Linked DNA regions of Homo sapiens: region 1 is linked to region 2. The links come from fine-mapping of genetic effects on gene expression. Tissue or cell type: prostate. Region 2 holds a variant in brackets; the other region holds the start of a gene. All regions are shown on one strand. Distances are from middle to middle.

What was found. PIP is the estimated chance that this variant, and not a neighbour inherited with it, causes the effect.
Region 1: PGPEP1 starts here. The variant in region 2 is fine-mapped to the expression of PGPEP1 in prostate (GTEx, PIP above 0.99).

What each region holds. Positions count from the first base shown.
Region 1 is chr19:18,336,409-18,344,491 of GRCh38, reverse strand. It overlaps PGPEP1 (pyroglutamyl-peptidase I), which reads right to left and starts at 3,894. Exons shown (of 5, transcript NM_017712.4): 1 at 3,777-3,894; 2 at 1,581-1,633. The coding sequence starts at 3,810. RefSeq lists enhancers at 1-557, 3,337-4,024 and a silencer at 3,856-4,045.
Region 2 is chr19:18,360,990-18,368,989 of GRCh38, reverse strand. It overlaps PGPEP1 (pyroglutamyl-peptidase I), which reads right to left. Exons shown (of 5, transcript NM_017712.4): 5 at 1-5,599. The coding sequence ends at 5,407. Among named protein-coding and RNA genes, the nearest start is that of GDF15, 21 kb to the left of the region's middle. RefSeq lists enhancers at 3,777-4,071, 6,221-7,006. The variant G/T (reference allele first, on the strand shown) is at 4,125.

The sequences.
Region 1 (8,083 bases), 25 kb after region 2:
GATTTTTCTCCAAATCTAGGATTCTGGAATGGGAACAGAGGTTACTTTAAATCAGGCAGCTCATAGGCTAGGATAAACAGGGGTTTGGCTCTGGTCTCTGCCGATCTGATTTATATAACGAGAAAACACTTCCGTCTTTCTCTCTGTGCATTGCTCCCCAGCCTGTCCCTACAAAATACTCCATCTGGAAAAGAAACTAGAAAGGTTTTGCAGACTGGCATCTTCTTCAGGGCACCAGGAATGACAGCCCCCCTCGGCCCCTAATATGCCATCTTTTCCTCCCCCAGCTGCGAGGAGATGACAGCGAGGCTCACTGTACCCCTTCCTACAAGGTCAAGATATGTTCCCCTGCCACCCCACCCCACATATTCCTGCCTGGTCCTTCCTGAACCATGAATTACCTGCCTAAAACATACCAGAGAATTCTCACTTTGGCTGTTCAGAAACCAACCTGAGTCACGATTTGTCTGAGTCAATGGAAAAGATTTTTAAAAAGGAGGGAGATCCTGGCCGGGGGTAGTGGCTCACACCTGTAATCCCAGCACTTTGGGAGGCCGAGGTGGGTGGATCACCTGAAGTCAGGAGTTTGAGACCAGTCTGGCCATCATGGTGAAACCCCATCTCTACTAAAAATAGAAAAAAGTAGCCAGGCGTGGTAGCAGGTGCCTGTAATCCCAGCTACTCTGGAGGCTGAGGCAGGAGAATCGCTTGAACCCAGAAGGCAAGGTTGCAGTGAGCCAAGATCGCGCCACTGCACTCCAGCCTGGGCAACAGAGTGAGATTTCGTCTCAAAAAAAAAAAAAAAAAAAAAAGAGGGAGATCCTAGAGTTGGATAATTCCTAGGTAAAGTAGACGCCAGCACCACATAAACAGCTGTGTCCTGGAAACCAGCTACGTTTATATCCACACCTGGCCCTCCAGACCCAGATCTGTAGCCGCTGGCCAGGGCCTGGGGCACTTCTGAGGCAATGCCACTCCCATTTCTTGGCTGTGTGACCTCGGAGAACTCCCTTCATCCCTCCTCTGGGCCTCAGTTTCCTATTCTGTTAAGTGGGCACAAGAATAACTACACGTACTATGCATGGGTTGTTGGGAGGATTCAGAGCGCTGGGGTACAAACACTCAACAGATGTGTGCTCCGGTGGTTACCATCCAGGAAGAGATGTGGATCCGACATCGTTTTTTAAGAGCTGGCTGGGCGTAGTGGCTCACGCCTGTAATTCCAGCATTTTAAGAGGCTGAGGCAGGAGGATTACTTGAGGTCAGGAGTTCGAGACCAGCCTGGCCAACATGGTGAAACCCCGACTCTACTAAAAATACAAAAATTAGCCGGGCGTGGTGGCAGCCACCTATAATCTCTGCCACTCTGGAGGCTGAGGTGGGAGAATCGCTTAAACCCAGGAGGCGAAGGTTGCAGTGGGCTGAGATTGTGCCATTGCATTCCAGCCTGGGTGACAGAGTAAGATTTCGTCTCAAAAAAAAAAAAAAGTTTTTGTTAAAAGGGGACCTTCTTGGATGCCATAACTTTCTGGGGTGTGCCCAGCTCCAAGCCTGACTCCCACCCTCCGGATCTAAGTTACCTGAACTGCAATCCAACTGGCGTTCACGGTGTGTTCCCCAAAAGGGCCAAATCCTGAAAAAACAGGAAAAGCAATATATTACCCAAGAGTGGCCCTTCCCAGTCTGCCCCTGGCCTGGCCGCTACTCCCACCTGGAGAAGCAAGAAAGGAGCTTCAGGGCGCAGCTGCCAAGGACAACATTGGGGGCCTGGTCCTGAGTTCTGGGAGCACCTGGAGGCCCGTCAGAGCCGCCGTCCTGCACCTGTCCGCTCTGAAGTCAATGAGTCCCTTCCTGTCTTCACCTCCACCTGCCCCTCATGCTCAGCCAGGGGCCAGAGGTATCTTCTGCCTCCGAAAAGGTCCTGATCCTGTCTTCACTTCCTCTGGTCCCCTTGACTCAACCTACAATTATTGTGTCACTGTCCCAAAATGCCCTGAATCGGCACCAAATGAGGAATGAGCCCTCCAGGCTGTCTAGATTTCACCTTGTCACCCTCCTCCCTGCTAGCTCAAACTCCAGGCCCCCTTTCCAAAACACGACAGTCGCCCAAGGCTGTGCTAAGTGATCTTCCTGGCATTAAGCCTGGCCACATCCCCTTTCAGGCAAGGGTGTTTCCTAGGCCCAGTTTCCAGGAGCAGGGACTGAGGCACAGAGAGGTGAAGCTAGCTGCCCAAGGTCACACAGCAAGAAGGTGAAAAAGCTGGGATTCAAATCCAGATCTGGGGCTGGGTGCGGTGGCTCATGCCTGTAATTCCAGCACTTTGGGAGGCCAAGGCGGGCGGATCACCTGAGGTCAGAAGTTTGAGACCAGCCTGGCCAACATGGTGAAACCCCGTTTCTACTAAAAATACAAAAAATTAACCAGATGGGGTGATGCGTGCCCGTAATTCCAGCTACTCAGGAGGCTGAGGCAGGAGAATCGCTTGAACCCAGGAGGCGAAGGTTGCAGTGAGCCGAGATCGCGCCGTTGTGCTCCAGCTTGGGCAACAAGAGCAAAACTCCGTCTCAAAAAAAAAAAAATACGGTCCATCTGGGCCAGTGATCCCACAGGATATGAATGCTATGCAGAGATGCTGTAGCCTGGGATAGCAGGTAGGGGCTGTGGCTCAGGAGGGGACCTCCTAACTCTATCCTTCTGTACAGCCAAAGTTTGAGTCTCAGCTCAGCCCCTTACAAACTGGATGACCTCTGTGAGCCTCAGTTTCCCTTTCTGCAAAATGGAGACAGTAAAGATGTAATCAGCTCATGCAAAAAGTGCTGGAATAAATAACCAGATAAAGGAAGGCTGGAAGGGATGGGGGCAGTGACCCTCCTCCCAATTATACACACCTGTTAAGCAGGTGCCTTGTTTCTTCCTTCTTCCCTGAATCTCCTGGATCAGCCTCAATCTCCCTTCAACAGCCACAAAACACCTGTGTGCACCTTTGCTGGATTTCCCACTCTGACCCCTCCAGACAGCAGGTCAAAATGACCCCCCCACTCCTTGACTCTGAGGCCCCAGCGGAAGTTGGCGCCCCACGTGGCCCCGAGGCGGAGTCTCAGGGAGGAGAAACAGTTGGTTTGGGGGTGGGGGGGAGTCGGTGACAGCAGGGGCCCTGACTCACCAACAAACAGCCCTGGCACAAAACACAAAAAGGTTTCCGCTGAAGACAGTCCCTGGGACAGCTGGGAGAGCCCGAGGTCCCCGGACCCCCACCTGCCCCTGCCTTGGGAGAGTAGCCCCCCAGGAGCGCAGGGCGCGGCGAGCAGTGACTGGGAGGTTCATTTGTCACTGGGACACTTCCTGCCCGCAAATCGGCCTTTGTCCCCTGGGGCCAGGGGTTGGGGGAGCGGTGTGGGGACAGGCTGGACCTCGGAAGGGGCAGGGAGGAAGGGTCCAGTCCAGCCCGCAGGCCAGACAGAGGAGGCAGGTGCCAGGAGGGTCACCATCCCCACCTTGGGAGGAAAGGACGCCAGGGGGGCCTGCGCAGCGCCGGGCTTTTGCCCGGCCCCCCAAGCCCCGCGCCCGACTGCCCTGACTCCCGACCCTGGGACCCCCAAGGCTCCTCCTCCTCCACTTTCCAGGAAGCCTGGGCTGCGCGGGGCTCCCGCGGGTGATGACACCTTCCAAATCTGAGAGGACTTCCAGCACCTGCCCCTCTCGGCCCCGCAGTCCCGGAGCCGCCCCCGCCTCTGCCCCCGGCCGCTGCCGCTACAGCCCCCATCAGCCAGCGTACCCGTCACTACCACCGCCTTCCTCGGCTGCTCCATGGCGGGATCGGGCTGTGCCTCGGACCTGCTTCTGTTGCGACTGGCGCGACAGCTGCTGCCGCTGCAGCCTCTCGGCCGCGCGAGGCCACGCCCCTGTCAAGCCCCCGGCCTCGCCCCCGGTCAGCCGCTCGGCGTGCGCGCCCCCGGGCCCGAGACGCAGCGTGCGCGCCCTGCGCCCCGCCCCCGTCGGCTAGGCCCGGTATTCCCCAGCCTCCGTTTCCCCGTCTGCAAAATGGGAACATCTTATGCCGTAGTGTGTAGCCGCTTGCACGCACTGAGCCAGGTGCTGGGGATGAGCCGGTCCTTTATTCTGCAAGGGTTCATTGAGGGCCTGCCCTATGCATGCATACTGCGCAGAATTAGGGAGGGAAGTCCCCGCGAGCAAGGCCCGTTTTCCAGATAAGGAAACTGAGGCACAGAATGCCACTTCCCCGAGGTCACTCGCCTCAAGGGGTCACAGGAGCAGCATTCAGGCCAGGAAGTTGGCGGGGGTGGGGGAGGACAGAGTAAAAAAGGAAAAACACGACAACCATATTTGTGTGGTGCCAGAAGTTTCTCTGCAGGCCCCCATGGTCCTAGGAGGCTAATGGGGGAGGGCGATTGTACCTGCTGTTCCCTCTGCCGGAACACACCCCGCAGGTACCTGCGAAGCTGGCCTCCTTCAGGCCTCAGCTCCAGTGTTCCAATGTCGCCTCCTCCCAGGGGCCCTCCTCCTGTCCTGGCTGTCACCTCCTCCGAGGGGTGAACTGTCACTTTCTCCTTGTGGCCTTCTCTGGCTATCACCTCCCTGCTATCCTATTACCTCCTCTGAGGGTTCCTTCTGGCCCTCCTTGGCTGAAATGACCTCACTGCTACCCCCCAGTGGTTCCATCTCATTCCCTGGTTCCATCCTCTTCATAGCAATAAAGCTCAGAAATAATTTCCTTTCTCTCTCTTTTTTTTGGAGACAGGGTCTCACTCTGTTACCCAGGCTGGAGTGCAGTGGCAAAATCATAGCTCTGTAACTTTGACCTCCAGGGCTCAACTGATCCTCACATCTCAGCCTCCTGAGTAGCTGGGACTACAGGTGTGTGGCACCACACCCAGCTAATTTTTGTATTTTTGTAGAGATGGGGGTTTCATAGTGTTGCACAGGCTGGTCTCGAACTCCCGAGCTCAAGCAATCCGCACACCTTGGCCTCCCAAAAGTGCTGGGATTACAGGTGTAAACCAGCACACCTGGCCAGAAATCATTTTTAATTTTTTTTAGCTTTTAAGTTTTGGGGTACATGTGCAGGTTTGTTATATAGATAAACTCGTGTCATGGGGTTTGTTGTACAGATTATTTAGTCCCCCAGGTATTATTAAGCAGAAATTATATATGTATTTATTTATTTGAGACGTAGTTTCACTCTTGTCACCCAGGCTGGAGTGCAGTGGTGTGATCTTGGCTCACTGCAACCTCTGCCTCCCGGGTTCAAGCAATTCTCCCACCTCAGCCTCCCAAGTAGCTGGGATTACAGGCGAGTGCCGCCATACCCAGCTAATTTTGTATTTTTAGTAGAGAGGGAGGTTCACCATGTTGGCCAGGCTGGTCTCGAACTCCTGACTTCAGGTGATCCACCCTTTTCAGCTCCCAAAGTGCTGGGATTACAGGCGTGAACCACTGCCTCCGGCCCCCTCCCCAGGTATTATTAAGCAGAAATCATTTAGTATGGTCACAGCCTCTCTGGTTGGCTTCCCGTTTCCTCCGACATAGAGATGAGAACTTCTAGAGGAGGAAGCGTTGTTCTGTTAGAGCTGCGTCTCAACACCCAGCACATCCCCAGGCACATTCTGCCAACATTCATCAGAGACCAGAATTCCTCTAAAAACAGGTAGAAAATGAAAGCTGAGTTTCTGGCCACATCTTCAGAAACAGGACTGGACCTTGGACTTGGGTCACGAATTTTTTTTTTTTTTTTTTTTTTAGACAGGATCTTGTTCTTTTGCCCAGGCTGGAGAGCAATGGAGCGATCACAGCTCACTGCAGCCTTAATCTCCAAGGCTAAAGCAATTCTTCCACCTCAGCCTCCCGAGTAGCTGGGACTACAGGCGCGTGCTGCCATGCCCGGCTAATTTTTATATTTTTTGTAGGGACGAGGTCTTGCTATGTTGCCTGTTTGGGTTGGTCTTGAAATCCTGGGCTCAAGCAATCCTCCTGCCTCAGCCTCCTAAAGTGCTGGGATAACAGGCATGAGCCAGAACTCCTGACTGTGTGGTTCACTGATAGCCCGTTCCACTTTGACTTTGCCATCATTCGCCAAGACACTATGGTTTTTTGTTTGTTTGTTTGAGACAGAGTCTCACTCTGTCGCCCAGGCTGGGGTGCAATAGCACGATCTAGGCTCACTACAACCTCCGGCCCCTGGGTTCAAGCGATTCTCCTGCCTCAGCCTCCTGAATAGCTGGGACTACCAGCACCTGCCACCGTGCCCGGCTAATTTTTGCATTTTTAGTAGGGATGGGGTTTCACCATGTTGGCCAGGCTGGTCTTGAACTCCTGACATCAGGTGATCTGCCTGCCTTGGCCTCCCAAAGTGCTGAGATTACAGACATGAGCCACCGTGCCCAGCTGGTACTATGGTGTTTACTGGCTCCACCCCCGAATTCCTCCAACACCAAGGGCAGAGTTCTCTAGACTGCCCCTGAGCCCTGTTTGGAAGCCCACACCCCAGGTCACACGCTCAGTGGCTATTTTGGTCTTTAGCAGCTTCAGGTAGAATGCAGAACATCAGAGAGCTGTCTGAGCTGGCCAGGGAATGAGGTCCAAGCCAAGAGGGAGAAAAGAGCAGATCAAAACACTAACCTGGCCAGGCGCAGTGGCTCACGCCTGTAATCCCAGCACTTTGGGAGGCCGAGGCAGGCGGATCACTTGAGGTCAGGAATTCGAGACCAGCCTGGCCAACATGGTGAAACCCTGTCTCTACTAAAAATGCAAAAAACTAGCAGTGAGTGGTGGCGCGTGCCTGTAGTCCCAGCTACTGGGGAGGCTGAGCCAGGAGAATCACTTGAACCCAGGAGGCGGAAGTTGCAGTGAGCTGAGATCGTGCCACTGCACTCCAGCCTAAGCGACAGAGCGAGACTCCGTCTCAGAAAAAAACAAAACAAAACAAAAAAACCACTCACCCAAAGGCAGGTTTTATAACCTGAATATGTCATACGTGCCTGGTGTGGAGTATGTGCGTTGCTAGAAGAGGGAAGGCGAGAGGGAAGTGACAGTGGATTTTAGTTTCCTCAATTGCAATGGGAGGAACGAAAACATGTAGAGTCAGCAGTGATGGGGAGAAACTGAGTCATGCCCCACTGCCCCAGTGACTGGCGTAAAGGCTAATGTTCACTCGTAGCCCTAATCATGTTTGGGCCATATTTTTGTTTTTTGAGATATGATCTTGCTTTGTCTCACAGACTGGAGCACAGTGGCACAGTCACAGCTCACTGCAGCTTCCACCCCCTGGGGTCAAGCCATCCTCCCACCCCAGCCTCCCAAGTAACTGGGACTACAGGCATGTGCCACCATGCCCAACTTGGAGGAACTTTTTTTTTTGAGACTGTCACCCAGGCCGGAGTGCAGTGGCACGATCTTGGCTCACTGCAGCCTCTGTCTCCCAGGTTCAAGTCATTCTTCTGCCTCAGCCTCCCAAATAGCTGGGACTACAGGTGCACGCCACCATGCTTGGCTAATTTTTGTATTCTTAGTAGAGATGGGGTTTCTCCATGTTGGCTAGGCTGGTCTCAAACTCCTGACCTCAAGTGATCTGCCCGCCTCGGCCGGGGTTGGGGGGCAGTGGTTTGTAGTAACATGTACATAACATAAAATTTACCATCTTAAGCATACCCTTGGGTAGCATTAAGTACGTTCACATTGTTGTGGAACCATTACCACCATCCATCTCCAGAACTTGTTCTTCCCAAACAAGCTCCATACCTATTAAACGCTCCCTCCCTATTCCCCTCCCTCAGCCCCTAGCACCCAACATTCCACTTTCTGTCTCTATGAATTGGATGACTGTGGCTGGGTGTGGTGGCCCATGCCTATAATCCCAGCACTTTGGGAGGCTGAGGCAGGTGGATTGCTTGAGGCCAGGAGTTCAAGACCAGCCTGGCCAACATGGGAAAACCCTGTCTCTTAAAAATACAAAAATATTAGCCAGGCATGGTGGTGAAACGGGAAAGGTTCCCTTGTTCCCCTCGCAGGGTGGGCGATGGGGGTGTGGCTTGCTTCTGAAGTGCTCCTCTACTCAGACCTCTAGGG
Region 2 (8,000 bases):
GCCCAGGGAAGGGAAATTTAATCCGGATTATAAAAACAAAGCCCTCTCCTGCCCCCTCAAGTTAGGATGCTGAGGATGGGTGGCTGCATGGGGCAACCTGGCAAAGACCTGCCTCCTTGACCATGATCAGCACCCCATGCTGGCCGTCACGCAGCTCCCAGAGGCCTCAGGATAGAGGCTGGGGCTGCGGAGAATAGGGCTTTGTCCAGCTGTCTCCAAAAGGGACGTCTAGGTTCAGACGCCACAAGAGGCAGAGAGGTCAAAGGCCAACAGTCTAGACAGTGGCAGCCAAAAGGGGGCCAGCTGTGCGGGACAGATTTCCATGAGCCATCCCCCTCCACCTGGTCACCTCCCCAGGGCACTGGAGTGCAGGTGTAAACATACCAGCTGGTCTTGCTTCCTGGAAGAAACTTCCAAGACTAAAAGGCATCTTGAATCTACTTTTCCAGCTCTCCCATCTGCCCCAGAGTGGATACTTTCTGTTCTAGATGTTTCTATGCCAGCAACGAGCAGAAAAGCAGAGCAGGGAATTCTTTTTTTTTTTTTTTTTTGTGACAGAGTCTTGCTATGTTGCCCAGTCTGGAATGCAGTGGCGTGATCTCACACCACTGCAACCTCTGCCTCCCAGGTTCAAGCAATTCTCCTGTCTCAGCCTCCCAGGTAGCTGGGATTACAGGCACGCACCATCCACTCTTGACTAATTTTTGTATTTTTAGTAGAGATGGGGTTTTGCTATGTTGGCCAGGCTGGTCGCAAACTCCTGGCCTCAAGCGATCAGTCTGCCTTGGCCTCCCAAAGTGCTGGGATAACAGGCATAAGCCACTGCGCCTGGCCCCCCTTTTTTTTTTCTTAATTTTGAGGCAGGGTCTTGCTCTGTTGCCCAGGCTGGGGTACAGTAGTGTAATCATGGCTCATTGCAGCCTTCACCTCCTGGGCTCAGATAAGCCTCCCAACTCAGCCTCCCAAGTAGCTGGGACTACAGGTGCTTGACACCACAACTGGCTAATTTTTTTTTTTAATTTCTGTAGAGATGGGGTCTCGCCATGTTGCCCAGGGCTGGTCTCGAACTCCCGGGCTCAAGCAATCCTCCCACCTCAGCCTCCCAAAGCACTGGGATCACAGACATGAACCATCTCCAGGATTCCCCTCCTTGCCGAGAAACTACTGCCATCTGGGACATTTCCTTCACACATCTGGCTCTGATGGGGAAGCTGTGATTTCGGCCCCCACCCCCTGTCCCTGCCCAGCCCTGCCTCTCCAAGTGGCCTCAGGTTTGTTCCAGCCCTTGATTGGAGCAGGTGGGCTAGGTGGCCCCAAGCTCAGCCCACCCACCTTGAATTCCTGCTTCTTCCTTTCTTTCCTTTCCACTCCATCTTATTTCTTTTTTGAGCTACATCCCCACACGCATGCAACTGACCTTCTTTGGGGTGGGGAGGGGGTGCTAGGGGCCGAATAAAGGAATAAAAGTGCGCAGACTTGGGCATCTTAAAAGAGATGCCATCATCAAGTTGGTCAGGGTACCAGGTGCCCTGATCACTGTCCCTGCACCCCTGTTCCCTGCCTCAGCACCCTCCATGAGGACTCATCAGGGAAGCCCCCCCAATCACTTCTCACCTTTCTCCCCCAGCCTTCCCACCACACCCCTCAGCCTGTCTTTTCACCATTGACACTTGCCACCCCTATTCCTCTTCCCAACACCTGCCAAGTCCCACCCACCTTGCAGACCCTTCCTATGCCACCTGTAGCCCCTACCCCAGGCTCTGAAAATGAGGCAAGAGGGAATGGGACTTGGTCCTTCCCTTCTTGCATGAGGATTTTTTTTTTTTTTTTTTTTGAGACAGAGTCTTGCTGTGTCACCCGGGCTGGACTACAGTGGTGTGATCATGGCTCACTGGGGCTTCAACCTCCCAGGCATAGGTGATCCTCCTGCCTCAGCCTCCTGAGTATCTGGGACCACAGGCATGCACCACCACATCTGGCTAATTCTTGTATGTTTTGGTAGATATGGGATCTCTTGCTATGTTGCCCAGGCTGGTCTTGAACTCCTGGCTCAAGGGATTCTCCTGCCTCAACCTCCCAAAGTGCTAGGATTACAGGTGTGAGTAACCACACCTAGCCCACATGAGGATATTTTAAGCCAAGACCCAACAAAGGTGGAAAAACACACCAGAGAGTGCACAGATGAGTTCCACCAAAAGAAAAATATTTGTAAAAAACTTGGCCAGGCGCAGTAGCTCACACCTGTAATCCCAGCACTTTGGGAGGCCAAGGCAGGCAGATCACCTGAGGTCAGGATTTCAAGACCAGCCTGGCCAACATGGTGAAGCTGCATCTCTACTAAAAATACAAAAATTAGCCAGGTGTGGTGACGGGCGCCTGTAATCCCAGCTACTCGGGAGGCTGAGGCAGGAGAATTGTGTAAACCCAGGAGGTGGAGGTTGCAGTGAGCCGAGATCACGCCATTGCACTCTAGCCCGAGTAACAGTGTGAGAATCCATCTCAAAAAATAAAAATAAAAAATAACAATGAGAAAAATAAAATGAGCCAAATGTTGTGCATTATGAGGAAGGATGGGATACTGGCTTGACTGGGTAAGGAAATGTGAAACCACTGCAAGAATACAAAGATGACACACACACACGTGACAATGAGCAGACAATAGGTTATATCTCTAAGGAGCTATGTCACACAGTGCTTTAAACACAGAGGTGAAATGAAGACAAAAGAAAGATGGAAGTGTGGAGCCCGGGGCAGGTGCTTAGCTCAGTTCAGGCCTGGCACATCCCCTTCCCCATTTTGTCCCTGTCTTGGCTAGACCTGTTTTCTCCTCAGAGGCCCACAGACCAGACCTTTGAGGAATAGAGCAAGATGAAACCTGAAGTTGCTTTCCACCAGACCTCTGGGTGACCCCTGAGTCTTCAGTTGTTCCCCACATTCAAAAGAGGCCACAGCTTCCCTTCACAGAAGCTGGGGGGACAGATGCAGTGATGTCTCCCACACTCTGGATTTCTCAGGACACAGAGCTACCAGGGGTGTGGAGGGGGCATTTCCAGCAAAAAAAAAAGCTGGCATGGAGGGAACAATAGTGTCCCTACTCATTTCCACCTGTCAGTTACAGTCCACACCCACTGCCAGGCGCCCACTGCAAGTCACCCGCCAGCATCCACCTTCCCCTCCAGAGAAAGCCCAAGACTTGGAAAATGTGTTTCACAGAAACCCATCAACCCCGTTCCCAAACTATCTAGAAACCCAACAGAGGTAGGAACCACTGCCAGCATCGGAACTGGAGACAAGGAAGGTGAACGCTGAAGAAAACAAAACTCTCAGCTGTTTTAAGAAAGAACTGGGCTGGGTGCAGTGGCTCATGCCTGTAATCCCAGCACTTTGGGAGGCCGAGAAAGGAGGATCAGTTTGAGTCCAGGAGTTCGAGACCAGCCTGGGCAACATGGTGAAACCCTGTCTGTATAAAAAATTTAAAAATTAGCCAGGTGTGGTGGTGCATGCCTGTAGTCCCAGCTACTCAGGAGGCTGAGATGGGAGGATCACTTGAGCCCAGGAGGTAGAGGCTGCAGTGATCCATGATCACACTACTGTACTCCAGCCTGGTCAACAGAACAAGACCCTATCATAAAAACAAACAAACAAACAAAAACCTAGATGTTGGGAAACCAACAAGATTAGATTCCAACTGTGTCACACTCAGGGAAGCAGTATAGCCACATTCCTCCAGGCCAAAATAGAAACTGATTTCCAGAACGTGCATTTCACTCAATTACTTTCACTGTGGGGGTCGTCCTCTCTCCCTAATGGGCAGCAAGATGTGGCTGAACTTACATCATCTGAGGAAGTTTACGTCATCTCATCCCTGCCTGGTAAGTTCAAGGTTACCAGGAAGTGAGATAAAAATCAACTCCTGACTCCTGGGCGAGTGTCCAAAAGCAATCTACATAAAACCCTTTGGCCGCCCGGAATTCCTCCTGCTCAGACATGCCGGGACATGCAGAGCTCTGCCAACTCCAGCCCCCGCGCCCCCGTTTTGAGCCCCCCGCGCCACCCCGCTAAGGAGAACAACAAACTCGTCCCAGCACCAAAACCCTGAAGCTCCAGGCCAGAAGTAGGGGGGG[G/T]TTTCCGCTGATGTGGAGTTTTACATATTAAAAAAGAAAAGTCAAAAGCAGACAAAATCCGCCTTTCCACAGGTGGCCCTGGTCTCCATGGCGACAGCTCATAGCTTGGTGTTGAAAGGACCACGACCCCCATGGCCACATCTGGGGCAGCAGTCCCACCCCGTTGCCTGGCCACGGACCCCATGCCTTAAGCAAGGGGGCCTCATTTTTGGCCCTAAAACAAAGACATGCCATCTTAAGTCCAATTGTTTTGAGACAGAGTCTCGCTCTGTCACCCAGGCTGGAGTGCAGCTGTGCAATCTCAGCTCACTGCAACCTCTGCCTCCCAAGTTCAAGCGATTCTCCAGCCTCAGCCTCCCGAGTAGCTGGGACTACAGGCACTCATCACCATGCCCGGCTAATTTTTGTATTTTTAGTAGAGGCAGGGTTTCACCATGTTGGCCAGGCTGATCTTGAACTCCTGATCTCAGGTGATCCGCCCACCCTGGCCTTCCAAAGTGCTGGGATTACAGGCATGAGCCACTGCGCCTGGCCAAGACATGGCATCTTAAGTCCAATTTTCAGGGCAGGAGGCAAAAGTGGCATCACCCTGGTGGGCGAGTGGGGGTGGGGGGAAAACACTTTTGTTGTTGGCTAAAAAGCCTGCATTTTAACCAAAGGGAATATAAATTACTCTGTGCCCAAACTAGCACTATTTAAAAAAAAAAAAAAAGAGAGAGAGAGAAGAAAGAAAGCAAGAAAGAAAGAAAGCAAGAAAGAAAGAAAGAAAGAAAGAAAGAAAGCCAGCCAGCCAGCCATATCCCAGGGTGGCCCCAGAAAGGGCCAGGCTGTTGAGCACAGTTCAAGGTCGAGGACGCATTGAGAGGCTTTTAAATTTGGTAAAAGCCAGTCTTGGATATAAAATGAATTCTGAAATTCCTTCACCAACGGACAGGAAAGCAGGTGAACATATGGCCCCAGCCGTGGTATCGCAGCTCATGGATTCACCAGACCAAGATTCTCCCTGGGCATCTGGACCTCCCAGGCTGGCCTCCCTGGTCACGGCAGCTGTGTCCCCAGATGCAGGGAGGAAAATGGGAGAAAAAAAAATTTTCACCACTTCCCTCGAATCAACCGGAGCTTTTGTAGAGAAGGAGGAAGAGGAGGTGGGCAGATCAGAATCTCTCTTCCAGATCGGATCCCCAAGCTGAAGAGCTTGTCTTTTCCTGGCCACACCCCAGAGGGTGGATGTCCCCTCGTGGGGTCCCCAGCAGGATGAGGTCTTAGGAGACCTGAGCGTCCCTCAGTGTTTGTGGCAATAGTTGATTTTGCCCTCTGACTGCTCCAGGAGGTCCAACATCTCCTCAATGATGGCTCTCAGTGCCCTGCCCAGCTGGTCCGCGTTGTACGGCTTCCCCAGTGGGGGCACGTGGACGAAGGCTGATCGACCGTGACTCTGGTACAAAGAGGTGTAGTAGGTAAAGTCGCAGAGATATCTAAGCCGCAGGGCGTGGCGGGTAAGAGAGAGACCAAAACGGGGTCAGAGGGGCAATCCGTAGACCAAGGTGACAGCACCCATCCAAATCCAAGGGAAGACCTTACCAGCAACCCACAAGATGGAACAACACTCTCCTCCCTCCCCAGGTTGGCAAAGATGAAAAAAAATCACCAGAGGTGGTGGCACGTGCCTGTAGTCCCAGCTACTCAGGAGGTTGAGGCGGGAGGATTGTTTGAGCCCAGGAGGTCAAGGCTGCAGTGAGCCATGATTGCACCACTGCACTCAGCCTGGGTGAGAGAGTGAGATCCTGTCTCTTTAAAACACACACACACACACACACACACACACACACACAAACAAAAAAAACTTGATAACTCCCAGTGCTGTGGCACATGTGGGGAAATGGGCAGAGTGAGCTATTGCTGGTGGGAAGGCACGCTGGTTGTCCCCGTGTGGAAGGCAATTTGTCAGGCTAGTAAAATTATAATCACCCAGACTTTACAACCTGGTATTTCCATTTTTTGTTTATTGAGACAGGGTCTCACTCTGTCACCCAGTTTGGAGTGCAACCTGGCCTCCAGCGATCCTCCTACCCCACCCTCCTGAGTAGCTGGGACTACAGGTGTGCACCACCACCACTGGCTTTTTTTTTTTTTTTTTTTGAGACAGAGTCTGCTCTGTTGCTCAGGTTGGAGTGCAGTGGCACAATCTCAGCTCAGTGCAACTTCTGCCTCCTCGGCTCAAGTGATTCTCCTGCTTCAGCCTCCCGAGTAGCTGGGATTACGGGCGTGGGCCACACCACGTCTGGCTAATTTTTGTATTTTTAGTAGAGACAGGGTTTCACCATGCTGGCCAGGCTGTTCTGAAACTCCTGACCTGTAGTGATCCGCCTACCTCAGCCTCCCAAAGTGCTGGGATTACAGGTGTGAGCCACCGTGCCTGGCCCTATTTCCAGTTTTTATTTTTATTTATTTATTTTTTTGAGACGGAGTCATACTCTGTCACCCAGGTTGGAGTGGAGTGTTGAGATCTTGGCTCACTCCAACCTTCGCCTCCCGGGTTCAAGCGATTCTCCTGCCTCAGCCTCCCGAGTAGCTGGAATTACAGGTGCCTGCCAGCACATCCGGCTAATTTTTATGTTTTTAGTAGAGACGGGGTTTCACCATGTTGGCTAGGCAGGTCTGGAACGCCTGACCTCGAGTGATTCGCCTGCCTCGGCCTCCCAAAGTGCTGGGATTACAGGCGTGAGCCACCACGCCTGGCCTATTTCCCGTTTTTAGATCTACCCTCAGGAACCATCTGCACAAGGGTACAAGAAAGTACAAACAGGGATGCTCCCCATCGTATTATGTATAAAAGCAGGAAAACAGAAAGCAACCTAAAGCCCACTGACAGGGAGTGGCTTAGTAAACTCTGGTTTATCCACACCATGGAATCCTATGAATCTGTTTACAAGGAATGTGGTACAGCCAGAAAAAAATGGAGAACTCGCCAGATGCATGTTGAACGCTCACAAATGAAAACTAAGGATGAGAATTCTCAGTAAGTGTGACTTTCGCCATGTGACTCCATCCACGTAAAAGCAAAGCAAAACAAGATAAAATCATAAAGCAGCAGGCCAAGTGATGTATATATGTACGGAAACGTGTCAGTCAGTAGGAGCTTCATGGTTTCCGTGTCTGACTTATCAGAGGGACCGCTATGGAAAAAGAGAGGGAATGAGAATTTTTCCCAATTAGACATATGAGGATATGTTCTAGAGTTACCTATGATTAAAAATTAATTTTATAAAGAGACTGATGGAAGCTGGGTATGGTGGCTCACACCTGTAGTCCCAGCACTTTGGGAGGCTGAAGTGGGAGGATCCCTTGACTCCATGAGTTCGAGACCAGCCTGGGCAACATTGCAACACCTTGTCTCTACCAAAAATACAAAAAAATTGGGCTGGGTGGCCGGGCGCGGTGGCTCACGCCTGTAATCCCAGCACTTTGTAAGGCCAAGGCGGGTGGATCACCTGAGGTCAGGAGTTCAAGACCAGCCTGGCCAACATGCTGAAAACCTCATCTCAACTAAAAATACAAAAATTTTCTGGGCATGGTGGCAGGCACCTGTAGTCCCAGCTACTTGGGAGGCTGAGGCAGGAGAATCACTTGAACCTGGGAGGCAGAGGTTGCGGTGAGCTGAGATTCTGCCATTGCACTCCAGCCTGGGCAACAAGAGCGAAACTCTTGTCTTTAAAAAAAAAGAAAGAAAATTGAGCTGGGTGCGGAGGCTCACACCTGTAATTCTAGCACCTTGGGAGGCCAAGGTGGGCATATTGCTTGAGCTCAGAAGTTCAACACCAGCCTGGGCAACATGGTGAAACCCCATCTCTACTAAAAATACAAAAATTAGCTGGG